Homo sapiens: one gene and its partners. The protein of the gene in region 4 interacts with the protein of the main gene of each other region in a pairwise test. Each region holds a gene or a part of one and is shown on either strand. Other genes may lie near its edges. The genes, in order: HOXD3, LMO3, EFHC2 and NFKBID.

Region 1 (7,769 bases), on a different chromosome or scaffold from region 4:
TTCCGCCAGACTGGTCCGGGAGCTGGAAATTTTAGAAACTGCCTCTCTTAGAAGCGTCTCTGGAGACTGCCGTGGAGCAGCAGAGGCTGAGGGTACCCCTAGCTTCCCGGGCCCGCGGAGTACTCCGCAGCCTCATGCACCCCGGCAAGGCGGCCTCCCCGCCGCGGAGGCCGACGCCCAGCTCCTCCCAGGGCGAGGACCCGCTCCGGCCCAAAGGTGGAAGCCGCGACTCTCAGCTCTGGCCAGTCACCTCAGAAAACCCCGCCACCACCACCATTCCGTGGCTCGTTCCGCGGACTCAGCAGCCGAGTCACCGCCACTTCTGAGACAGAAAAGGCGCGTAGCAGGCGACCCGGACCCAGAGCGACCTCCCCTCTCTGATCCCTGAGCACCCCAACCTGGTCCTTCGAGGCCTGGAGCCGCCTAGGCGCTGAGCCACTGCCCGCCGTGATCTGTGCGACTCCAGGTCTGGGCAGGACCCGCAGATCCCACAGGCCCAGCAACCGCCAAGCCGCGACTTCCCGCTTCCTGCGGCGCCTCCAGGAAGGCGAGGAGGACTGCGCAATGAGTCCTGGCTGGGCTAACCTGGGGGACAATGAAACTTATATTTTAGAAATATTAAACCAAGACAGATTCCCACCACTCTCCGAGTGGCTGGTGGGAATGATTCTGCAATGTGGGAAAAAAGAATTAAGCGTGCCAGCGCCAGCAGCGGACCTCCTGGCCTGTAATGAGCGCCCAAGACCCTCCCCCAGCCGGGGCCACACTCGGGAATCCCGCACCACGGGGAACTCTCCACCCTGTCCCCGAAGTTTTGGTTTCGTTGCCAGCTCTGCTCAGCGGCATCAGGCACAGTGAAATGCTCTGTTGCTGATTGCAGGGTCTGAGACCGGTGAAAGTGCCCAGCAGCCATAGAAGAGCCCCAGAGGAGTGGGTAAGGTCCACCGCATCCCCACTCCAGAGGCGCAGGAATGTCCTGGAGGCCCGAGCCCCCAGAACCGTCTACGAGCCCATCCTTTTGTTCACCTGGCCGGGCCTGGCCAGAGGCCCACTCGGGGCGTCTCTCGAAGCCGGATCGTGGGTGACCCCAGCCCACCCCCACCCGGAGGACCCCGCCCCCTAGCCTCTTGCCAGAGGCCGACCTGACGGCCAGCAGCAAGTGTTAATCCCCAGCCAAAGAGGGGGGCTGCTTTGCGGGAATTTGTCTCCAGGAAAGGATCTAAGCCTTCTTCAATCGGAGCATATGTTCATAGAGCAATAAACCGGAAAGATTTACAGTCCTCGCCCGGCCCCCAACAGTCTCGCACCCTTTCAGGAATTACTTACGATGATTTATCACACCAACCCGGGCAATTGTCACACTGATAAAATAGCCCGGGCCAGTGCCCGCCAAGCCGGGGCCTTGGGAGGCTGTTGGCTGCCGGGCTGCCAGCAGGGCTGGGGAAGCTTTTTGTGGGTTCCTCTCTGGGCCTACAAGGGGATATCTAGGTGGGTTGGAGTGGGTTGGAGTGGGGGGGGTGGGAGGGGAGACGATTCTCATTGAGAAAAATGCAAGCAGCTCAGAGAAAGCGCCTGGAATCTGCGCCCGAGTCACTCGCAAAGCACATAAACATTTGTCATCTTTGAATAATTGAATTAATGTGTTATTGTTTGAATGTATAATTCATAATGGGGGAAACTTTGTTTCTGTCCTGACGGGGAAATATACACACACCAAAAAATAAATGAAAACACACACACACACAAACACACACGCACACATAATCCCAAAACAACCACCACGCGCAGCCAGCCCCTGCTCGCTGAAATCATTCTGAAAGCCAATGGAGGTATCTCACAGCAACAAGAGGGAAGGAGGCGAATGAAGAGGCGCCCGGGTCGGAGCTGCAAGCTGGAAGAAAAGAATGCTCGCTACTGCCCCAGCCCACGACCCTGGCAAGCTGGGGATGGGGTGGAACGGAGCGGAGTGGCTCTTAGGACACCCAATTTTCTTGGAGTGCCGGTGAAAAAAGGCAGAAACGGGAGCGAGCAGAGAAACAGCCTTCTGCAGCCCGCACTGGCCTCTCCCCCATCCTCCTTTCCCCAGGCTTCCCGTCGCCCCGGGGTCTCCCACTCGGGCTGCAGGGACTTCTTCTCGCGTTTATTTTAGCTCTTCCAAAATAGAAATAAAAAATACAAACACAAAAATAAACGGGAAAGAAGAAGAAACTCGCTGGGGTGACAGAGGCAGCAGAACTTGGGTGGGGAGAGAGGAGCGGGGGGAGAGGCAACTCGGAAATCATTATCTGTTGGTTAAAACCTGCCTGGGGTAAAATTTCAACTCGATTTTATAGCCTTCTATTATGACGCAAAGAAAAATTTACGACCCTCGCTTGAAAAGAGGGCCAGGGCCTTTTCTCACCGGTTTAAGAATAGGCGGCAGATGCCGTGACAGCGACCATTGTTCCTGGTAGACACAGGCGACCAGGCAACCTCGGCCCGCGTGCGCCAGGCGCGTCCGCCAGCCGGGCCGGTTTTTTACAACTCCTGTTGTCTTGGAGCAGCCCGCGTGCACCTCGCCCCTCACCCCTCGCCCCCTGGCACCCTAGCGCCTCGCACACACACCCTCTCCCTATCTCTGTCTCTGTCTCTGTCTCTCCCTCTCTCACACACACAAGCGCGCGCGCGGACGCACGCACACACACACACACTCGGCCGCTCTCAGTAATTTTTCATAAGTGCAAAGCTTTGCTGAACCAAAGGTCACCATCCAAGCCACTAACAACTTCTCGCCGGCGCGCAGTTCCAAATCAGGAAGCAAAGGGAACTATTTGTCAGCGGCCGTGACAGCTAAGTTCATTAAGGATTTAAATCTGATGAAATAAAAGTTGCCAAAATATTTACCTGCGGCCGCGCTCCCGCGCCCGCCGGGGGCCGGGGGTGGAGGGCCGGGGGCACCGCGCGGCCCCCCTGGACGGGTGATATTCTTGGGATCCCTGCACTTTCCAAGTCGGAGAGAGCCCTTTGCGTGGCAGATTAATGACGACTCCGTGTTTCTTAAGGGACGTGCTGAATTAATTATTTCGCCAATCACGTGGTCGGGACTTGTAGAAATCTATTCTTATCATCTTCCTCGCACTTAGAAAATTCTCCGGGTTATGAAAGGCCCTCCCCCGGCTGCCAGCGAGCCCCGGCCGCCCAGCCCGGCGCGGGGGGCAGGGAGGGCTCCCCAACATGGCGGGCAGGCGGGCGGGAAGCGCCGTCCGCCGAGGGTCCCGATTTACTGTACTCTATACTCAGCGGGCTCTGCTATGGACTCGCTTCCTCCTCATCCCTGCCCGCGATTCAATACACACAACGGTATTGATGTATTGGTGGGCACGGGAGGAGCCATTAAGCAGAAGACGGGCAGAGGACAATCATAAAATGTGTCTGAATATTTAAACTTCTGCCTGCGCACTTATAAATACACATGTCCACGCGTCTGGGGCAAGCCCTTCCATATATTAAGGACAGATGTCTGATTTTATGCATTCTGCTCATTTCCTGTCTGGAACAAGCACCCCCATCTATTTTGGGACTCCTGTCTTGGCCCCTTCTTCAAGGCGAGGCCAAGATGTAAAGAAGCCCTTGCGGTAAATGTAGTGCAGGGCACTTTTTATAGTGGGGAGTGTTTATTGTTGCCTGAGGGGTGGAGGGGGCGCGGAAGAAGGAGGGGCAGGTGCTGGAGTCCCCACAGGAGCTTAACAGTACTGGAAAAGTAGAAGCCCAAGAGTGGAGGCCCGGGGGTCAGGTCAGAGCAGCCACCCAGGAGCCTCAGCTCGGCCCAGAACCCAGCACGCTCTCCCTGCCTTAGGGGTGGGGGACCAGTAAGGTGTCTCATCCACCACTTCCCAAAGACTTCCTCTGAGGGCTTCCAGACCAAAAAGGTCTGGGGCCTGGCCCGGGCCCAGCAGAATGCCAACCTGGATCCCCCTATTAACCTGGGCAATTACTTTTTCTTCAAAAAATTAACACCCAACACTCTGTACCCTGAATTCAACCCCAGGCTTCCCAATGCTCACAAAATATGGTGGCCAACTGGGAGTGTGTGTACATTAAGGAGGTGGTAATAATAGAATTGCTAAGCCTTACATGGTTTAACCTTCACACTTTAGGCACCCCCCAAAAAATGGTGCCTAATTTATTGCAGAAAATAATAACTTGTTTATGTTAAATGTTAGCTTTTAGAAGACTTAACAAAGGATGAATGCTTCTGTTAAGGCACCAAACAGGAGGGAGATTTTGCTACACCTTTTATTATTTTAAATATAGATCAATGAATTACATCAAAACTACAAGCAACAATTAGTATAAATAATACTTTAATCAGTGGCAGCAAAACATTGGTCAATTCTATTAAAAAAGCATCTCGTGTGAACAGACATCATGGGCTGACTGACAGTGTCATCTCCCAACAAAAGGCTGCGATGGACAAAGTGAGATGGGAGTCAGAGGAGCAATGTCCTCAGCAAACACTTCACTCTCCCCCTCCCCCAGTCAGGACCCCAACACGGTTTTTGTTTTTGTTTTTAAAACACCAACACAAACACTTCTGGCTCATATTTAAAGGAACAAACTGGAAACAAATAATAGCAAATGGGCATTGGAGCTTTTCCACACCTAGCTTTCTCCAAAGCACGTTCTCAGATGGAAACCCATTTCCTTCCCTGCCCTAAGTGGTTACGGGGCCCTACCCCTTCCCTGGCCCACTCCTGTGGGCCCAAATGGATGCTGGGGTCCGACTGGGACCTCAGGGTTGGGGGCTGCACTCTGGGCCATCCAGGCTCCATTAACATTTCAAAAGAATCCCTCCAAGCTGAGAAGGAGAGCTGAGACTTATAAACAAAGAAGTTGTTTCTCTGATTAAGTTACTTTCCAAAGTAGTGGGGCTATGTTTGAGAAGGAGCTTGGGTTTTCCTCATGAAAACATGTTTCTTGGCTTTCCTCTGGGGCAGGGATGCAGTCAGTTAAGCCTGTGTGGCATTTGGTATGAAACTGGGGGTGAGTAACCTGAACTTCTGAGGTGGGGGAAAATCTATACAACAAATCTCTATTATATATATGTAATTGGATGTTGTGAAAATATATACCTTTTTCCCCTTCTCAAAGAGAAGGTTCAATGTATAGACAGATTTGGGTTTTAGGAAAGCAGCTTAGCAACTTTCCAACTTGCCTAAGGATAGCGGCTCCTTTCAAATGGTACATCCAAAGACTGCTCTCCATGTTAGAGAGGAAAAAAGAAGAGAAGGGTAGTTAGAGTCCAAAAGGTTAGGGGTTTAGAGGTCAGTCCTCCCGGCTGAAATACAGCTAATCAAATAGAAAATTTGTCCTCTGGATGAACCTGATTCTGTAATTTACCCGAACTTCGGTAAAATACCTTTTCAGCTTCTCAACGTGAGGGCGTCAGAAAAAAGACGTCTTGACTATGTATGAACTCTGTGCTTTTTGTCATAGAAACAATGATGTGAATAATGCACGAATATCCATCTTTAATATCCCGACGTGGTGACATTCAAGTATTGCCATGTGCAAGTCTGAGAGCCAGGCTCACCCCAAGGAGAAACAAAGAGCAGTCCCCAGGGTCTAATACAAAAGACCAAGGCTTGGAAGACACTTCAGAGAAGCGGAATTTCAGCCTAGGGACTGCAGTGAATACCTGCCCTCAGCTCTCAGGAGACACAGCCAAAGAACAAGCCTACAGAGAAACTCTTTTTTCCCTCCCACTTAAATATATTTTTTAAATTACAACAGAAACCTTCTAAAGTGTTTTTGAAGTACTGAAAAAAATACCCCCCTTCTGGATCTTAAAATTAAATTTTAAGCTTATCCTTTCTCCCTTTCCCACTTTGGTCACTTTTTGATAGCTACAACCTTTTTTGGAGCCTGAGGCCTTGGGAAGACTGGTTTCATCTGAGTATATGAACTCTGGCCATTAACTTTGACTTCTTCCTCCTTATGCTTGAGGGTCAGCATTTTAGAAAAATGAACTTTGAACCCTTCCCAGGAGAGGCAGAAGAAAAACGACTAGAGGACATCTCCCCTGTTGAGAGTGATTCTTTAAAAAACCACTATTCTCAAGGCAAAGACGAGTGCTTGAAAACTTTTATACTTTTACAAATTCTGCTTCTAATTAATGAGCTGAGGAAAACTTCCTTAGATTTGGTTTTTAAAAAAATTAAAACTTCAGGGGGAAAAAAACTCTAAGGCTAACTTTTGTGGACTTCTAGATTCAATTAGGGTTTTTTTTTTTTCCTTCTTAAAGCAAGAGTTCCTCACCTTCCCACTTTCTCCCCACTGCACAGCCCCTCCCCTACACAGGCCATACACTAATTCCTGTAAAACACTGCTATATGAGGGTATTTAGGGCATTTGGAATCCAGTTGGAACAGAAAATTCAGTCATTATCTAATGACCCAGTGCATAGAGGTTTTGTTTTCTTTCCCCAGAAGGAAAATGTTGGACCATTTGTTGGTTTTTTTCCCTTTCCTTTAATCACCCAGAACTGGTTGTAAGCACAGTGCTGAAAAAAACACATGTGGAAATATATTTTCAAGAATGCAACTTTGAGTGAATCCTTTGCTTCCTTCTGGAAGGGTTAAGGCCCCCCTATATACATTTCCAGAGAGTGGGGAGGGGTGGAGTTCAGAAGTAAGTGCACATATCTCTGATTCTGCTCCCTGAAGTTCAGCCCCTTTCACCTTTTTAAGATTTTTGGCATGAAGGTGTCAGTTATTTCTGTACCACATTTCCCAACAAATAAATATTTAAGCAAATATCTAAACATAAAATAACCCATTTTTACTTCCTTCTTAGACCCATTTCTTTGGAGGTGGGGCCACTGGGAGCAAAATATATATTTTTTAATCACATGAAATTCCATAGACAACCCAGAAAGTCCAGAAATCCTGACCCAGCTCTCTGGCTTCCACTGAAAGCACCTAGCACAGGGGTGGCCAACCTTCTGCCTCAACTCCCCCACATTATTAAGCCACAAAGCACCCTGGAGGGGTGGAGTGGGGGAGAATGTCCAAATTCACAGTGGGATAAAGCATCCAACCTTCATTTGCAAATTCAAAATCCAAGAGCGGTGATTTTCATAAGTTTAATGACTCGCCAAGATTTTATGTTCTCAGTAGCTCCTGCCATATAATATACTTAGAGAGAGAATCCCGCCCCCCCTCCCATCCCCATCCCGCTCTAGGGAGGGGGCTGCCCTCGGGCAGGATGCTAACCTAGTCCGAGGGCGGCCTGCTTGTCCCAGGTCCACCCCACAGTACCTTAGAGCCCAGCGAGGTGACAGCAGGCCCGGCCTGCCCCCGCAGCTTCGGCTCAGCCTGGTGCGCAGGGAGAGATGGGCCCAGGGTCCCCACTTCTATAAGGTCGTCAGGTCCGTGTGGTGGTCTTTGGCCATCGGCTGTAAATGCTGGCTGGGGGCGACTGAGGAGGAGCAAGATGAGGAGGAAGATGAGGACGATGACCTGCCTTTAGTGTTGGGCAGCTTATGATCTTTTTTCCACTTCATCCTCCGGTTCTGGAACCAGATCTTGATCTGGCGCTCCGACAGACACAGGGTGTGAGCGATTTCAATCCGACGGCGCCTTGTCAGATACCTGTTAAAATGAAATTCTTTTTCCAGTTCTAGGACTTGCTGCCGGGTGTAGGCCGTTCGGGACCGCTTGGGTTCCCCACCGGTGTAGTTGGGGTTCACTGCGAGACAAAACAGACAGGACAGGCAGGTCAGCGCCCGG
Region 2 (7,034 bases), on a different chromosome or scaffold from region 4:
TATGTGGCAATTTATTTTTATTTTCTCTTTTAGAGTTATTATATTATTATATTAAAGCCTATAAAATTTGTAGTCAGCATAGCAAGCTTCAAATCATTTTAGTTAATTAGCAACTATGGTGAAGCATGAAGCATCACTCTTTCCCAGTAGTTTCATTTTAAACAAATCATCCTCACGTATAAAAATAGCAAATTGCATTAAATTTTATATAAGACATTTTACAGCTTCTTATATAGGAAAAGCTATAAGCAGCTTCCATGGCACATACCACAGCAAACAGCTTTGAATAAACTCTGGCAAGATATCATTCATAGAGATACAAGATACATACAGCCTATATAGACTTAATGCTTAAAGTACGTCACAAAAAGTTGCAGGTTCAAAGAAAGAACAACAAAAAAATTGCCCAGAAGTTGAGTTCCAGTTACATTCTGACATCCTTTATTGCCTTCAAGTTGAAAAAGAAAGTATTTTGGTATTTCTCCTAGTTCTATTTAATGCTTGCTGCAAAACATTAAATAAAAGCATGTAGAATTCCTAATTCTAAGACTCTGATTATGCACTGGCTGGCTACTTTATTCATATTTTTTCAAACTGAAATAAGGCGGATAGATCGCAGTGATGAGTACCTTAAACATTATCACTACAACTTTGCTATTTTTACACAGTCATTTTTAATCTACTTTAGACAATATCAATTTTAAGCTCCAACTTAAAGTACAAAGATGTTTCTATATCTAATTTGTCATAAGTTACTCTTCAAAAAAATAAAAATAATTATAAATGCATTGGATAGATTTTTAACAGATACATTTCTTGGTCTGCCTGGCATATAAATATTGACTGGGTAGATTTCATAATTTCAGTCAGAAACATGTTAGAGGAAGTTTTAAAAAGTCAGTCCTTCTCTTTCTTTAGCTAATGAGTTTCCAAAGGAGGAAAGCAATCCCACAAATGGGCAAATTCTGTCTCATCAGATATGTACATTTTATGTTCCACAGCTAAATGAATGATATGCCAGTCCAGTTCTGGAAAGTGAAAAATTCCACTGTTAAGATTTGATACTTAGTGTACAAACTATGGAAGATTTTTCTTTCTTTTTCTCTTAAATATAGCTACTAGTGCCATAAAGGAGAAAAAAAATGGAAAGACATCAAATTTTCCATAATAATAGTTTCTATAACCCTTAAGAAAATATCTTACAGTCTAAATTATTATATTTTCATATTATTTAATATCTCAAATCATCATTCAAAGAACTTATAAATCACATCATCATTATCACTACTCAAAGTAACACAAGTAAAACACAGATCTTTAAGTCTCATTGCTCATAATTAGGAGTGTTTCTTTCTTTCTGTTTATGGAGGGAGAAGTGTATTAAGAAGCTAAATGTAATTGGCAAAAATATTTTACTTTTCACTGTATGTAAAAAATTATCTGGCCCAGGACAATACTTGTAACCAACAATATATGTGGACAGGCAAATTACTATTTTATTACTTTCCTTATTCTTACTTATGTTCTTAATAATTTAGACATGAAATATAAATATGTAAGTTATTTATGTTCAGTTTGGTGCCTCAGAGAAATTACATAATATCAAAGGGCCAAAAATAAAACAACTTTTAAAATAGAACTTAAGTGATTAAACATTGGTTATATAAAATACAAAATGGAAGTATGCTGAATTTGGAGGAAAATGAGAAAAATTACTTTTAAAGCTCAGGAAAATAACCACAGAATATTACTTGTTCACTGATTATATTACAGATTCTATGTAATTAAATAAACAATTAGATAGTGGCAACTTTAGGTGTACCTTCCTTTTTCCTTTAGCTAATTTCACCCATTGCCTGAAATCATACCTCTCACACAGTAAGCATTTAATAAACATTTTTGAACAACTATTTGTATCTAATCAAAGAAATTAATTTGTAAATAAAATCTGCTTGACTATATTTGTTGATTTACCATACAGAATCAGACTATTTTAATTTGCCAATCAGAGACATATGCAGTTGAACATCTACACAATTTCACTGAGACACATGCTTTCCACATAAAACTAAATACCACATCTGCGGCATAATCTATAACACGTAACACAGTGTTTTACACACACCAATTCTCCACTTCACTTCTGCAATTTTAAGTGTTGATGAAGTTGCCAAATAAGTCACATTATATACAACAAACTTTCAGTTTAAATAAGGGACAAGATTGCTGTTAACAACTTAGTTTGAAATGTTAACAACCGTTAGGCTGTTAACATAACAACTGGCCATTAATGTGGTAATGACCAATTTAAGCGGAAATCGTACTCTGAGAAATGAATATATTGGCAATCAGGACCAGGGTTTATATTTGAAAGAATATTATATACTTTTAATAAGTTAACCACCATTAAAAGTTTGAGCCTATCAGGAGGTAACTGAAAGTTATTCTACAAAAAGCCACATACACTCTTATAGAGATACAAAAACTTCTGATATGAAAACTATTTTTGATAAATGCGTTTTAGCAAAACACTTGAGACTATCAAATATATTTTTACTACCACAAGGAAAAAGAAAACAAAACAAATCTAAGATTACTGTCTTTGCTCGATGCTATGTTGACAGCTAAGAAGCATGTTATACTCACAATATAGGTATTTCCTTGGCAAATTTTTATTTTTGTTTTCAAAAACCCCAGATATTTCAGTTGACATTCTTTCAAGTTTACTTAATTTTTGTCCTTTGGTTTATTAAAACACCTTAACATTGCCCGGGCTATATAAACTCCTTATTTGAAATGGTAACATAAATCCACTTGAGATACTGAAATTACAAACAAATGTAAAAGTCAAAAGGAGTCAAAAAGCTATGACTATTGGTTAGTACAGATAAAGCAAAACTAAAAAGCAGTATTAAATCACTAAAAGCAAATACAAATGCTTTATGTGGAAATGAGGCTCTAATTCACAATGGGCAGAAGAGAAATTTTTATTTCAAAGAGGAAAGTTCAAAGACCGGAGAGTTCTAAAAAAATGAACATTGTACATTAATTTTGATTCGTTGTGCCAACACAATGAGGGAAATCCTGGCTGGAGAGAGTGACTTCTCATTGTTGGCACCTTGCATGTGTTTTACGCACTTGGAACACAGAGAAGTAGTAACAAGTGGCCATAATTAGTCAGGAGGCTGTCAGATGAGGCCGTCCTAAGAGCGAGAAGGAGTAGAATCTGATAAACAGTACCGCTTTCACCCTCTTGTAACTACCATTAATCAAATGATATATTTTTATATCTAAAGATTGGATCTGACTGAAAATAGCTGAATTATATACTAAGAACGACCAAATTCCCTAGAAAACACCTCATCAAATGACCAAGGTACTAAAGGAGTTACCATTGATTGATAAATTTTGTCATAAGGGAAAAAATTCCAAATAAATCGCTTAATGTCAGACCAGAAAAATGATAAATTGTATTAAATATGAAAATCCCAATGATGCCATATATCATTTCTCTAATTTGATAGATCCTACTTTATTAATATAAGTAATTTGCAGCTGAAGTAAGTCACAAAGTTGCCTGAAAAGCAAAATAATTTTCCTTCAGCAGAAATTCTGTGTTGAGTACTTAATGCTGGAAAACAAGCTTTAGTAGGCTTCATAGCTCCATAACCAAGAACACCTGCCTTGTCCTGAAAGCATTCAGATGTTTACAGGTTGGAGAGTGGCTGTCATTTTCCTATAATGATGGAGGTCTTTACTTTGTTATTATCCATAAAACTACTGGCAAGTCTGAGGCGGTTCAATTGCTTAGTTGTATTTTTGAGATTCCCGTTTAGAATGTCATGAGGTGGGGCGAGAGGAAGATGTATCTACACTTGGGGAAAGTTTTCAAAACTCTACAATAAATGCACTAATAGATATTAACCAAGGATTTGCACCTGACTTCCTCTGACACACCTGAAACAGAGAAGACAGCTGAATAACTTTAGAAGACTAAATTCAGGTCCAACTTAGAGGCAACAATTAAACTCTTTTACACAGTCCATTTTTTTCAAGTTGAACTTTTTAAAAATAGTTAAGATATTTTGCCAAATGGCTGATCAATTTCTTTGTGTTATGCTCAACCCCCATTCCCCCTTAAGCTCCAAAAAAAAAAAAAAAAAAAAAAAAGAAAAAAAAGAAAAAATAAGTAAATCAACCTGAATGCTGATTTCGACCAAATACATCCTTGACATTAACTGGCAGTTTCAACATAGGCAGCGCCATAACCAACTGCCTGAGTGTGCAGGCAAGCCAAATTGAAATACTTTAAATATTGTGGTTTGTTGGCTATTCCTTAAGCATTAATTTGAGTAACACACACAGGGCAACGCTTTGAAGGCTGACAGGTAACTTCTTTCAGGAATATAAGCTGGCAGTAAGGAAATGAAACAAGCAAACAAAAAATACACTTACAAAAGTACTTTAAAAGGCATCCAGTCATCACTGGTGTGCAAGGATAATTCCTACCTCAGATAGTCTCTGCGACAAAGGATAAGATTAGCTTTAGTGTACAGGGTGGAGCCCACCTCTCCCAAGCGACAGTCACAGCAGGCACACTTCAGGCAGTCTTCATGCCAGTATTTGTCCAGTGCCTTTAGAAGATACCGGTCCTTGATCTTTCGGTTGCAGCCAGCACAACCTTTCGGCTTGGTGTCTGGCTGGACTGAGAGCATTTGTATACCTAAAGGAAGACAAAAGCAAAAAAGAGAGCTGAGACTACCAGACAGAATAAAAAGACCTCAAACAAGTTAAATATTTAATATTTCCTTATTCTAGGAGTGTTAGCTTTTCTTGTTTAGGGCTATACTGAAATCAAACCCAATTTTGGAAACAAAAAGTCTCAAACTTTATCAAGTGCTTATTAAATCATTCAAAAAGTTACACATGCCAAGTGACAATAATAATAAATTCATGTTGACCATGGTAAATTGACATTATAAATATGAAGTTCAATAACATTAAATAATTTTATAGTATCTTCATTCTCCCCATAGAGCAGTTCCTTTAGAAAGAAAATGTGAGTAAATAACAATCTGAAAAGAAAGCTATTTAACAAATTAATCTATGCACAGTCCCTACAAGTAAAAAAATGAGTTTTGCTTAACTGTTTAAAAATTTCACTTAATATGTGCTTGATGGTGGAAGGAGAGGGCACCTGGTATGGGGTTACACTAACCTTATTCAGCAGTAGAGGTGTTTATAGTTAAGTACACAGAACAGCTACCCAAAAAGCTCACCAATCCTATATTTCTTGCTTGCATCCAAATACTTCTTCTATGTCCTTGATATTTCAAAGTATTCATTGTGTTCAAATATAACATTTATACTCACAAGCATCAGTCAGCACCTATATTAATGGCAGATTACTTAACTATATACTATATGCTTTTATGTAAACCTAAAGTATATGATTATACCATTTATTACCATAAACATGCAATTATTTGTTTTATAAAGGAAAGAAAAAACAATAGAAGGCAAGATCTAAATATATATACAATTATACAAACATATATAAGTAAATATATACATGTTATATGTATACTATGCTAAACATAGAAACATTTATATATTTTAAAGGTATAAATCCATCATAAATAAGGAATCCAGCTGGATTCCATGGGCTTTACAGTTTGATTGAAATCTTTTGAATGAATGGACATTCACCTTGAGTGTCTTCTTATTTCCTAGGTATTAAAACACCCAGCTTTAGCAAGAAGCTGGACCAACTATCCAATGCCTCATATTTATCAAATAACTCATTTTAAGCACTATAAAGTACTGCAGACATCATCAATTCCAAATTCCCTCATTTTACAAATTATGTTACCGAGGCCCAAGAGAGGTTCAGAGACTTGCTCAAAGCTGAAAGACAGTTACGCTATAGACTCCAGCCAAATGGCCTTCTTACAGTCCAGAGACCCTTCTGCTGCATTATGTTTGCTCTCCTAGGCATAAAGTTTTAAACTTGCATGTAGAAGGATACAAAACACCAAATGTGCATGCATTATAGGATAAGAAATGTCAAGCTATAATCTGCACTTTTGTACATTTTCCTTCTCCAAAACAGCTAAACCTCCTCCAGTTTCCTCTGATATCTTATGATGAAGGCTTCACCCCCATCACAACTTTCACAACCTTTTAAAAAAAAAATCCCACTGGTAAGAGACATCAAGGCATCCGCAGAGCGGAATAACTTTTCTAACTACAAATAATACATGAGTTGCACAAAATATTGTTAGGATGTTGAACTTTCATTAGAAAATAACTCGTCTGGTAGAGTTGTGTAGGGAATGGCAGGAAATAAAGCAGAGTAGCTGTTCTTTCTTTCTGCATCATAAGCATAGCTGTAGTCACCGGAGCTGCAGACTAACAGCTGGATTTGTAAGAAGAGCAGGTGGTATCCCTATAGCCTGCTTTCTGTTCCTTTCCTTTGAAGGAGCTAAGGGCCTAGTGTAGATTAATCATAACCCTTGATAGCTCTGCTAAATCTCACTCTCTAGAACTTCTAACAAATGAAGTTTCTTTGATCAGAACTAGTTATCCTCTTCTAGCAAGGTTCCACAAGGAGTGAATCCCATTAATTACAGTGAACAACAGATCCAAGTGCCTGTTAACCACATATCTAGGGGGAAGGGGAAGTTTTGATTTACTCAGTGAAATTCTGGATGGTGTTACTGAAAACACCTAGATAATAAATATTAAGAGAAGCCATTCTAATTAAGCCATCCTAATTAACGGCCATTCTATTAAATTTGTAAGGCTATTATTTTTATTTATCACAAAGCTCAAAGATGAAAAATCGAAAAAAAAAAAAATCCCAGTAGCAGCTAAGTTATATTTCCCACAGTTGTGTTTCTACCATCAAGCATAGAAGGTCAGCTGTTTTATTCAAAATGCTTTGCAACCAAGACAGGGGATACCAACATTTGGCACAAGTAACACTACCCTACTTGTCTTCACAAAATGTTTTTGTTGTGTTGACATTTTAA
Region 3 (7,609 bases), on a different chromosome or scaffold from region 4:
ACAGAGCAAGACTCCGTCTAAAAAAAAAAGCAGTGACCAATAAATGGTCATACAAATGACCAACAAACGTGTAAAACATGCTCAATTTCATTAGGAATCAGGAAGTACAGATTATAACTACAAAGAGTTGCTATACCCACCAACCAAAATATCTAAAATTTAAAAGACTAACAATACCAAGTGTTAGAAAGAATGTGGAGCAACAGGAACATAAAATGCTGTTGGGAATTTAAGTAGTATAATCACTTTGACAGCATCTACTACAGCTGAACATACGAATACTGTATGATCTAGCAATCCTACCAAAAAACATGAACAAAAATAGTCACAGTAAAACTATTCTTAACAACCCCAAACAAGCCAAATATTTATCAAGAGTAAAATGTATATATAAATGATGTGAAAAACATACAATGCAATACTACAGAGTAATAAAAATGTACAAACTACCTCTATAGACAGCCACATGGACAAATCTAACGAACATACTGTTGAGCTAAAAAAGCCAGTCACAAAAGAATAAACACCAAACATTTCCATTGATAAAAGGTTCAAAGGCAAGCAAAACCTAATTATAGTGATAGGAGCCAGAACAGTGGTTATATCTGGAGAGTAGAGATGGGGTAATGAACAGAAAGGTTCATAGGTAGAGTTGTCACATAAAATACAAGATTCTCAGTTAAATTTGGTAAACAATAAATAATCCTTTCCCATAAACAGGTTCCATGCAGTATTTGAGATATGTATTTTTATTCGCTAAATCTGGCAACCCCAGTCAAGGGTGGTATTTTTGGAGAACAGGTCATATTTTATTTTATTTATTTTTTTGAGACAGGGTCTGGCTCTGTTGCCCAGGCTGGAGTGCAGTAATGCAATCATGGCTCACTGCAGCCTCGACCTCCCAGGCTCAAATGATTCTCCCACCTCAGCCTCCTGAGTAGCTGGGACTACAGGCATGTGCCACCACGCTTGGCTAATTTTTTCAATCTTTTGTAGAGATGAGGTCTTACTATATTGCCCAGGCTGGTCTCGAACTCCTGGGCTCAAGGGATCCTCCCATCTCTGCTTCCCAAAGTGCTGGGATTACAGGCGTGAGCCACTGCGCCCAGCCCCCATATTTAATTTCTTGATATTCATTTTGTGATCATCCATTGTGCATCTTTCTGTATATGTGTTGTACTTCATGATCTTAAAGTTTTTTAAAAAGCAAAAATATACGCAGAACCTTGCAGATTTATTAATATTTCATCCATCCACTGTTTTTCCTTCCCATCCTTAATCACTGCACGTGAGAGCTATGATACTTCTGCAGGAGGCAGGCACTGGTAATCAGAGTGTTGCTGGGCAAAAAGCTGTAGGCTTTACTTTCATTTTTTATTAAAATTACTTTTACACAGCATGCTTCTTTACTTCTGGAATCTGTTTTCATGTCCCGTCTCTCAGGGGCCTTTCTTGTTTGCGTGACTGGCTTAAACTTACCAAAGGGCAATGCTATGCTGGAAGGCCAGCCTCTGCCCATCAACCAAGAAATGCACAAATCAGTGTTCAAAGTTGGACTGACCAGACGTGTAGGGGTCAGAATTCAATGGCGTGAAGCTACAAAGAAAAAACTTGTACTTCAGGGCCAACAACTTAGATACAGACAGTGTTTGGAAACCATAAAGCCAAATACTTCAATCTGCTGCCTGCTTTCTAAAGTTATCAAAGGTTTACACAATTGCCTTGAGTGGCTCCATCTAATTCCCTCCCATCTAATTGGGAATTAGCTTCTCCTGCAGACACAGATGGCTGACCCAAGTGAAGGGTAGTAACCAGTATAAACAAAAGCCTGAATCATTTTCCTGCTGTCGTTTAAATGAGGTGCTATTTATTGGCAAAAGTTCTTTCATGCTCAGGGTTTTTTGTGTTGTGTTGCTTTGTTCTGTACGTTCATCTTCTTTTGAAATGAACCCCTCCAGGACAGGCGCAGTGGCTCAGCCTGTAATCCCAGCACTTTGGGAGACCGAGGCGGGCAGATCACTTGAGGTCAGGAGTCCGAGGCCAGCCTGGCCAACATGGTGAAACCCCATCTTTACTAAAAATACAAAAATTAGCCGGTGTGGTGGCGGGCGCCTGTAATCCCAGCTACTCGGGAGGCTGAGGCAGGAGAATCGCTTGAACCTGGGAGGTGGAGGTTGCAGTGAGCCGAGATCGGGTCACTGCACTCCAGCCTGGGCGACAGAGCGAGACTCCGTCTCAAAAAAAAAAAAAGAAATGAACCCCTCCCAATTATAAATAGAGAAAAAAAAAATCCCTCCAAGTTTGGGTGCCTGTCTCTATAAAGTTTGGGAGTAAACTTTACAGGCTGATAGAACTCTTATCTGCCACCTACCCCTCTTGATAAGTGCCAGATTTCTTCAATTTGATAATTGAAACGGTATCTTTTTTCACACAGGATACTGGGGATAATGATTAGGCTCCTGAGCTGTGGAGACAAGGTTGCTTGAAAGAAACCCAGCTTCACCACTGAGACTGTGTGGTTCTGTGCCTCAGTTTCCTCAATAGTAACTGGGAATAAAAACTACCTAATTCAAAGGGCTGTTGGGACACTGGATGCTGCATAAGGTGATTAAAGCACAGCGCCTGGCACACATTAAACCCCCAATGGTTATCGTCACTATTATTTGTTACCTTTGAGGGTCCTGCCACCTATAAGGACTCTCTCTATATATTTCTAAATTAGGAAAAACATTCAGATGCAGCTGGAGAGATGGGAGAAGCAGCCTATAAAGTTTGGTCCAAGTTGCCACCAACCCAGGGCAGCAGCATGGGGCCTCCAGGAGAGTCTGCGGAGGTGGCCACGCCACGACCCTGCCTGGACCCCAGACTCCAGCCGGGAGCTGTGACCTCGGACGCCCTTCCTACTCACGTTGCGGTTGAAGCTGTTGCCCGGCAGCAGAGGCAGGGCCATGGCGCTCAGTGTCCGAAAATCCAGGGTCCCAGAAGAGAGGGCCCGGCAGGCAGCGGCGCCTCCCGGCCGTGTTGTTTGGCCCCCACGTTGCCTGGAGACGGGAAGCGGCGTCACGGAGGGAGGAGGGGCGGGGGGTTGGCGAGAAGGATCGTGGGGGGCGGGGGACACCTCCGCGGCGCGTACCTCCTCCCCAGCCCCAGTTCCCCTCCACCCGCTTCATCCCCGCACACACTCAGCCAGGTCCTGGTCTCCTGAGGAGTCTTCTCTCTGCACACGCAGTGTGCACACACAAAGATTGACTGTTCCCTGCCCCCGCCGCTTTCTGGTTTAACCCCCTTATAGAACTCAAAGCCTTTCTTGTACTTTCTTGCTTTTCCAATTCTTGTCGCCAACAGTTTTTTGCTATGTGGTTCAAACACACAGCAAAGTACAGAAAGTAATATGACGCCCGTGTGCTCACTGAGATGTTACACAAGTCGATATTTTCCTATGTTGCATAGACATCAGCTTTTATTTTGTAATTAAAACGTTCAAGATGAATCTAAAGCCACATATACCCTGACGAAAACGCGTTGTAATGGTAACCACCGCCTTCAGTTTTTCTTCTGGATATTTTTATATTTGTTGTTTGTTTGTTTGTTTGTTGTTTTAAGACAAGGTCTCACTATGTTGCCCAGGCCGATCTCGAACTCCTGGGCTCAAGCAGCCCTCCCGCCTCTGCCTCCCAAAGTGCTGGGATTACAGGTATGAGCCACCGTGTCCGGCCCATTTTTGTATTTGAACTAAACGTTTGTAAGGCCCAATCAGGGGTGGCCGGGGCGGAGTCAGGTGTCACAAATCGCAACCCCTGTCACTCCATCGTTCACCCCAAGATAGCCGGGCCAGGAACCTCCTCTCCCGACACCTACGTCTAATCCCTCCCTGAAGCCCTAAAGGTTGGACTCGATGCTCTCTCTCAGTCACCACCTCGTCTATTTCAGCTGCGATCCCATTGTTTCTTGCCTGGTTTTCTTCTTTAAAAAGAAAAACAAACACACACAAAAAACTAACTGATCTTGCCTCCAGAGCCGTCGTTTTTATAATTCATGGTGCAGCTGTTACTCTTCTGCTTCAATAATCTAGCCTTCCCGCCGCCTTCAGAAGGTGGTGAAACTCCTTATAGCCTGGTCTGAGGAGCTTTTGTCAGAGGGCACCTACCAATGCCCTCCATCCCTTTCTTTGCCCCCTCCTCCATCTACTCCAGCTCTGAGAAACCACTGGCAGTTTCTAAATCAGGCTCTGCGGTTTCTCCTCTTGGGGCTTTTGCAAATAACACTATCGTCTAGAAACACCCTTCCTTCCTATCTTTCACATAAGTAACCCCTTCTTGTCTTTCAGGACTTGAGGCCAGCGTGGGAGTGGGGCATAGAAGGTATTGCCATTTCTTCAATATATTCTTTCACCTTCTTCCTGCCGCCTCCATCTGTATTTGGTGTCTATTCTGATCGTGGCTTTCATCCTACTACATTGTAATTACCTGTTTACTTGACATTTCTTTAAATGCCCCCAAATACCTCCAGGGCAGGGACTGTATCTCCTTTTTTATTCATCAACAATATCCATTATTGCTTCTGTGTTTATAAATTTTACACTCTAAATTTCTGCTACTTGCTTTTTTTGCCTGATTCTGTTATTGAGGCCAGGCGCGGTGGCTCATGCCTGTAATCCCAGCACTTTGGGAGGCCGAGGCAGGCGGATCAAGAGGTCAGGAGGTCGAGACCAGCCTGGCCAACATAGTGAAACCCCGTTTCTACTAAAAATATTAGTAGAATATTAATATGCTACTGGGAGGCTGAGGCAGGAGAATCGTTTGAACCGGGGAGGCTGAGGTTGCAGTGAGCTGAGATTGCTCCACTGCACTCCAGCCTGGGCAACAGAGCAAGACTCTGTCTTGAAAATAATAATAATAAAATTCTGTTATTGAGATTTCTACACATTGACACATGTAGTGTTCATTAATTTTAAACGCATTGTATGATTATACCACAAATTGTTTAACTATCTGCTCTCATCTGTTGATGACAATTAGATTGTTTCCAATTTTCCACTAGTTACCAACAATGCTGCAGTGAGCGACTCTGCCTGTTCCTTTGGCAATGATCTAGGGCACATACTGAAAGATGGAATTACGTACATATCTGAGTGCATGGCTTCATCTTTACTAGATTTTGCTAGATGATCTACAGACAGATAAACCAATTAAGAAAGTCCCCTTCCCCGTTCATCCTTTCAACAATAGGTATTACCAAATTATATAATTTTGGATAATCATCTGAATAAGTGTGAATGGTATACTATTGTTATTTTAATTTGTTTCTCCCTAATTCTCCCTAAGCAGTTGGTCATGTTTTCCCATGGTTGTTACTTTCTCCTGTGACTCAGCTATTCATATCCTTTGCAGATTTTTCTCTTCGGTCATTTGTAGTTTTTTTTTTTTAGATAGATAGATAGATATAGAGATATTCTGGATACTAATCCGAGGCATAGCAAATATTTTCTCATTGTCGTTTGTCTTTTAACTCCACTTATATAGAGTTCTTTATTGTACATAAATTTGTTACTTTACTCAAATATATCATTCTTTCAGTTATGGTTGGTGGGTTTTTTGATTTATTCTACTTTTTATTTTTTGAGATGGAATCTCACTCTCTCACCTAGACTGGAGTACAATGATGTGATCTAGGCTCACTGCAACCTCCGCCTCCTGGATTCAAGTGATTCTCCTGCCTCAGCCTCCTGAGTAGCTGGGATTACAGGCATGCACCACCACACCTGGCTAATTTTTGTATTTTTAGTAGAGACGGGGTTTCACCTTGTTGGCCAGGCTGGTCTCGAACTCCTGGCCTCAAGTGATCCACCCACCTTGGCCTCCCAAAGTGCTGGGATTGCAGGCATGAGCCACTGCACCTGGCCTGTTTGGTGTTTTGTATGTGAATTCAAAAATCTTATACTACTCCAAAAGAACAGTTATTCTCCTACATGTTCTTACAAACATTTTTAAAATTCCCTGTTGCTTTTTAAATTGAAATAATTTCAAGCTAGTAAAAAGTTGCAAGAACAGTCCAAATAACTCTCATTTATCCTTTCCTCAGATTCCCCAATTGTTTTATATTTTACCACATTAATTTTGTCATTCTCCCCATATATATCTTTTACATTTTAGAGTTAAGTTGCAGATATCATGCCCCTTGACTCCTAAATACTTCAGTGTGTATTTCCTAAGAATAAGGACAGTCTCTTATATAACTGAAGTGCAATAATCAAAATCAGAAATTTAATATTAATACAATACTGTTTTCTTTTTTCTGAGACAAGGTCTCACAATGTTGCCCAGGCTAGAATGCAGTGGCATGATCATGACTCACTGCAGCCTCCACCTCCTGAGCTCAAGTGATCCTCCCACCTCAGCCTCCCAAGTCGTTGGGACTACAGGCATGTGCCACCATGCCCAGCTATTTTAATTTGTTTTATTTTTTGTAGACATGGGGTCTCATTATGTTGCCCAGCCTGGCCTCGAACTCCTGACCTCAAGCAATCCCATCTCGGCCTTATAATACTATTTTCTAATCTAAAATACATATTCAAATTTTGCAATTGTACCAATAATGTCCTTTTTTTTTTTTTTTTTTTGCAGACAGGGACTTGCTGTGTCACCCAGGTGCAATCACGGCTCACTGCAGTTTCTACCTCTTGGGCTCAAGCGATCCTCCCACCTCAGCCTCCCTAGTAGTTGGGAATACAGGCACACACCACCATGCCCGGCTAATTTTTTTTTCTTTGTTGAGACAAGGGTCTCACTATGTTGTTCAGGCTGGTCTCAAACTACTGGCTCCAAGCAATCTTCCTGCCTTGGCCTCCCAAAGTGCTGGGATTACAGGCATGAGCCACCACATCTGGCCTATAATGTCCTTTTTTAGCAAAAAGAAAAATAATTTGTTTTGACCCAGAATCTGATGCAACAACACACATGGTGTTTGATTGTCATGTCTCGTGGTTGTCATGTCTCTTTATTCTCCTTTAATTGGGAACAGTTCTTCCATCTTTCTTCGTCTTTTGTGACCTTGATATTTTTGAAAAGGATAGGCCATGGCTAGGCGTGGTGGCTCACGCCTGCAATCCCAGCACTTTGGGAGGCCGAGGCGGGCGGATCACTTGAGGCCAGGACTTCGAGACTAGCCTGGCCAACATGGCGAAACACCATCTCTACTAAAATACAAAAATTAGCCGGGCGTGGTGGCAGGTGCCTTTAATCCCAGCTACTCAGGAGGCTGAGGCAGGAGAATCGCTTAAACCTGGGAGGTACAGGTTGCAGTGAGCCAAGATCATGCCATTGCACTCCAGCCTGGGCGACAGAGTGAGACTCCATCTCAAAAAAAAAAGAAAAAGAAAAAGAAAAGAAAAAAGCCTAGGCCAAGTATTTGGTAGAATGTTCTTCAATTTAGGTGTGACTGATGTTTCCTCATGAGGAGATTCAGTTTATGGCTTTTGGACAAGAACGCCACAGGAGGACTGTTGTGTCCTTCTAGTTCATCAAAGGAACAGGCACATAATGTGCTTTTACCATCAATGATGAGGTTCTCTTTGATCACTGGGCTAAGGTGAAATGTGCCAAGTTTCTGT
Region 4 (3,123 bases):
GCCTCCTAAAGGCCAGTCCCTCTTGTGTCGCCAGGGTGAGGGTGACAGGATATGGACTTGGCACCCATGGTGGCTGCTACATCCTCCCCCCTCAGGCACATTCATCCCAATATGACCCCTCAGCGGGCATCACAGCCACTCCCCTGCACCAGTGCCCCCAGAGATCAGACAACAGTGGTTCTAGTCCAAATTGAGTTTAAATTTTTTTTTTTTTTTTTTTTTGAGACAGAGTCTCTCTTTGTCACCTAGGCTGGAGTGCAGTGGCACAATCTCGGCTCACTGCAACCTCCGCCTCCTGGGTTCAATCAATTCTTCTGCCTCAGCCTCCCAAGTAGCTGGGACTACAGGCGCATGCCACCATGTCCAGCCAATTGTTTTTGTATTTTTAGTGGAGACAGGGTTTCACCATGTTGGCCAGGCTGGTCTCAAACTCCTCACCTCAAGTGATCCGCCCGCCTCGGCCTCCCAGAGTGTTAGGATTACAGGCATGAGCCACCAAATCTGGCCCAAATTGAGTTTAATAAAGAGCTTGAGTGATGCTCAGATTAGGGAGGGAGTGACCGGGAATGCTGGGGTCTGGAACTGGGGGCCCAGCTGAGCTCTGAATCAGAGAGCAGTGAGACCTAAGGGTCCCTGATCTCAGAGGGTCCCTCCTGTCTCAGGGTGAGGACCTGAAGGGTGTGGGTCCCGGGGAGGGTGAGGAGGCCATTGTAGGAGATTTACTGAGATGGTATCGGGATGCCCCAAGCACCACGTAGGGGGATTACATCTGGGTTTCTGGGAACGAAGAGCTGAGTTAGGGGAGAGAACCCGAAAGATCTCAGTGGGGAAAGGACTAGGGGTGCAGGGTGTTTCACAGAAACAATCAAGGGGCCTCGATTTCACAGAAATCATCAAGAGGGCTCCTTGTGGGTAGAAGAGGGGTATCACAGCACCCCAAATATTGGGGCCTGTTCACCCCTCTGCAGCCATTCTGGGGTTTTAATGTAAAACCCCAATGGCAGGATATTCCACATACATTATCATGGGTTTGCAACATTAGCATACGCTGGCTGTCCCGCAGGACGGTGGGGACTGGAAAATCAGTCCAGGGTCTGGGTTTGAGTCCTAAGAGGACAGGCCTGGCGGCGCCACACGGCTCCTCTTCAACAGCTGCCGGAGCTGTAGACAAGGCAAAGGAGGGAGAGAAGTCTGTCAGGTTGGAAGGAGAGGTGGGGAAGGCACGCCATGCAGAGGGAGGGGCTAGAGAAGAGAGGTTGAGTGGGTCCCTTTGGATTTGAAGATCAGAGGTCCAGAGTCAAGATTTTGGAAGAGCCAGGTGCAGTGGCTCACGCCTGTAATCCCAGCACTTTGTGGGGCTAAGGTGGGCAAATCACCTGAGGTCAGGAGTTCAAGACCAGCCCAGCCAACATGGCGAAACCCCGCCTCTACCAGAGATACAAAAATTAGCCGGGCATGGTGGCACGTGTGCCTTTAGTCCCAGCTTGGGAGGCTGAGGTGGGAGAATCACTTGAACCTGGGAGGTGGAGCTTGCGGTGAGCTAAAATTGCACCACTGCACTCCAGCCTGGGTGACAAAGCAAGACTCCGCCTCCAAAAAAAAAAAAAAGATTTGGGAAGGAGGCCGGGAGTGATGGTTCCTGTGATCCCAACACTTTGGGAGGCCAAGGCGGGAGGATCAATTGAGGCCAGGAGTTTGAGATCAACCTGGACAACATAGTGTGACCCCATCTCTTAAAAAAAAAAAAAAACAAAATTAGCTGGGTGTGGTGGTGACTGCCTGTAGTACCAGCTACTGGAGAGGCTGAGGTGGGAGGATCCCTTGAGCCCAGGAGCTCGAGGCTGCAGTGAGCTATGATCATGCCACTGCACTCCAGCCTAGGCAACAGAGCAAGACGCTGCCTCAAAATAAATAAATAAACAAACAAACAAATAAAAATAAAGATGTGGGAAGAAGGTCAAGGCCTGGGTTCGTACACTGAGAAAGGGTCAGGAAGCAGAACTTCAGTGAAGGGAAAGGGGCTGCTGGCTGGGGGTTCCCACCTGGGGGTGAGGAATGAGAGGGAATTGAAGGGAACAGGTAAGAGGTCAAAGGTCACATCTGAGGTCAGGACCCAAGGTTAGGGGCAGGGGGTAGGAGGTCACACTTGGGGGGATCAAAGGTCACACCTTGAGGTCAAGCAAGATTCAGGGTTGGAAGTACAGGTCACACTGTGAGGTCAGGGTTGGGGTAGAGATCAGAGAAGTCACCATTCTGGGGTAAAGGATGAAACACTGAGGTCAGAGGTCACATTATAGAGTCAGGGTTGCCTGAGGGCTGAAGTCACCTTCCGAGATTAGAAGTCATTCTCTGAAAGCGAGCATTGGGTGGGGCAGGGAGGTCATCCCGCGCCCGCGAGCTCAGAGGCCACTCTACAGGCAGGCTCAGTGCTTACTTACCCCCTCAGGGCCCGGCCCGGGCCGCAGCAGGTGAACGGGCTGCTCATTCTCCAGGTTGCGCAGTGTGGGGTCCGCCCCAGCTGCCAACAGGTGCCGCACGATGGCCTCCTGGGCCGGCCCAGGGGGCAGGGCAGCCGCCATGTGGAGGGCTGTGTTCCCGTGGGCCTGGAAAAGTAAGGGGAGGGCTGGTGGGGATCTGGGCTCAGCTGGCCCAGGCCTCTAAACTGCACTTCAATTTCTGCCTTGTCTACGTCCTACACTTGTCCTTTCACATCCCAGACCTCCCCCGGCCACAGCCACGCTGCATGCATCCCTGTGTCCACGGACTACATGTTCTGGGGCAATCTGTGTCTGCTTCCTATACTTTCCCCTGCAGATCCCACACATCGTCCCCTCCACGTCCACAGCCCCCAGGACCCCTAACATCCCACTGCCCCCCCTACCGTACCCCACACAATCTGCACTTCCCAGCCCCAGCTCCCACCTTCATGTTGACAAAGGTCCGCAGGTCTCCCCGGGGCAGCTCCAGCAGCAGCTGAACCAGAGTGGGGTTGGCAGCCTGCACGGCCAAGTGCAGAACTGTCTTGTTGCTCTTGATCTCCTGAGGGGAAGGGAATGGCAGAGGTCAGGGCCAGCCTCACACCTAGGTGCCCTCCCACAGAATCCAGGAGTCTTTAAAGACCCT

Evidence for each region.
Region 1: the proteins of NFKBID (region 4) and HOXD3 interact in binary tests that used the Homo sapiens proteins (3 or more experiments, as listed by UniProt).
Region 2: the proteins of NFKBID (region 4) and LMO3 interact in binary tests that used the Homo sapiens proteins (3 or more experiments, as listed by UniProt).
Region 3: the proteins of NFKBID (region 4) and EFHC2 interact in binary tests that used the Homo sapiens proteins (3 or more experiments, as listed by UniProt).

The regions. Positions count from the first base shown.
Region 1 is NC_000002.12:176,152,567-176,160,335, reverse strand, and holds the start of HOXD3 (homeobox protein Hox-D3), read right to left. Parts: upstream 3,030-7,769; 5' UTR 2,884-3,029; intron 2,869-2,883; exon of another isoform or gene 2,402-2,868; intron 1,086-2,401; exon of another isoform or gene 399-1,085; intron 1-398. Other genes in the region: HOXD4 (homeobox protein Hox-D4), read right to left, coding at 7,394-7,728. UniProt on the Homo sapiens protein: Sequence-specific transcription factor which is part of a developmental regulatory system that provides cells with specific positional identities on the anterior-posterior axis.
Region 2 is NC_000012.12:16,596,146-16,603,179, forward strand, and holds part of LMO3 (LIM domain only protein 3), read right to left. Parts: intron 4,724-7,034; coding exon of another isoform or gene 4,716-4,723; coding exon 4,510-4,715; intron 2,823-4,509; coding exon of another isoform or gene 2,750-2,822; exon of another isoform or gene 2,647-2,749; intron 1-2,646.
Region 3 is NC_000023.11:44,340,639-44,348,247, forward strand, and holds the start of EFHC2 (EF-hand domain-containing family member C2), read right to left. Parts: upstream 3,035-7,609; 5' UTR 2,951-3,034; coding exon 2,909-2,950; intron 1-2,908. UniProt on the Homo sapiens protein: Microtubule inner protein (MIP) part of the dynein-decorated doublet microtubules (DMTs) in cilia axoneme, which is required for motile cilia beating.
Region 4 is NC_000019.10:35,887,452-35,890,574, forward strand, and holds the end of NFKBID (NF-kappa-B inhibitor delta), read right to left. Parts: intron 3,040-3,123; coding exon 2,923-3,039; intron 2,604-2,922; coding exon 2,439-2,603; intron 1,162-2,438; coding exon 1,108-1,161; 3' UTR 501-1,107; downstream 1-500. UniProt on the Homo sapiens protein: Regulates the expression of IL-2, IL-6, and other cytokines through regulation on NF-kappa-B activity. Functions in the regulation of inflammatory responses.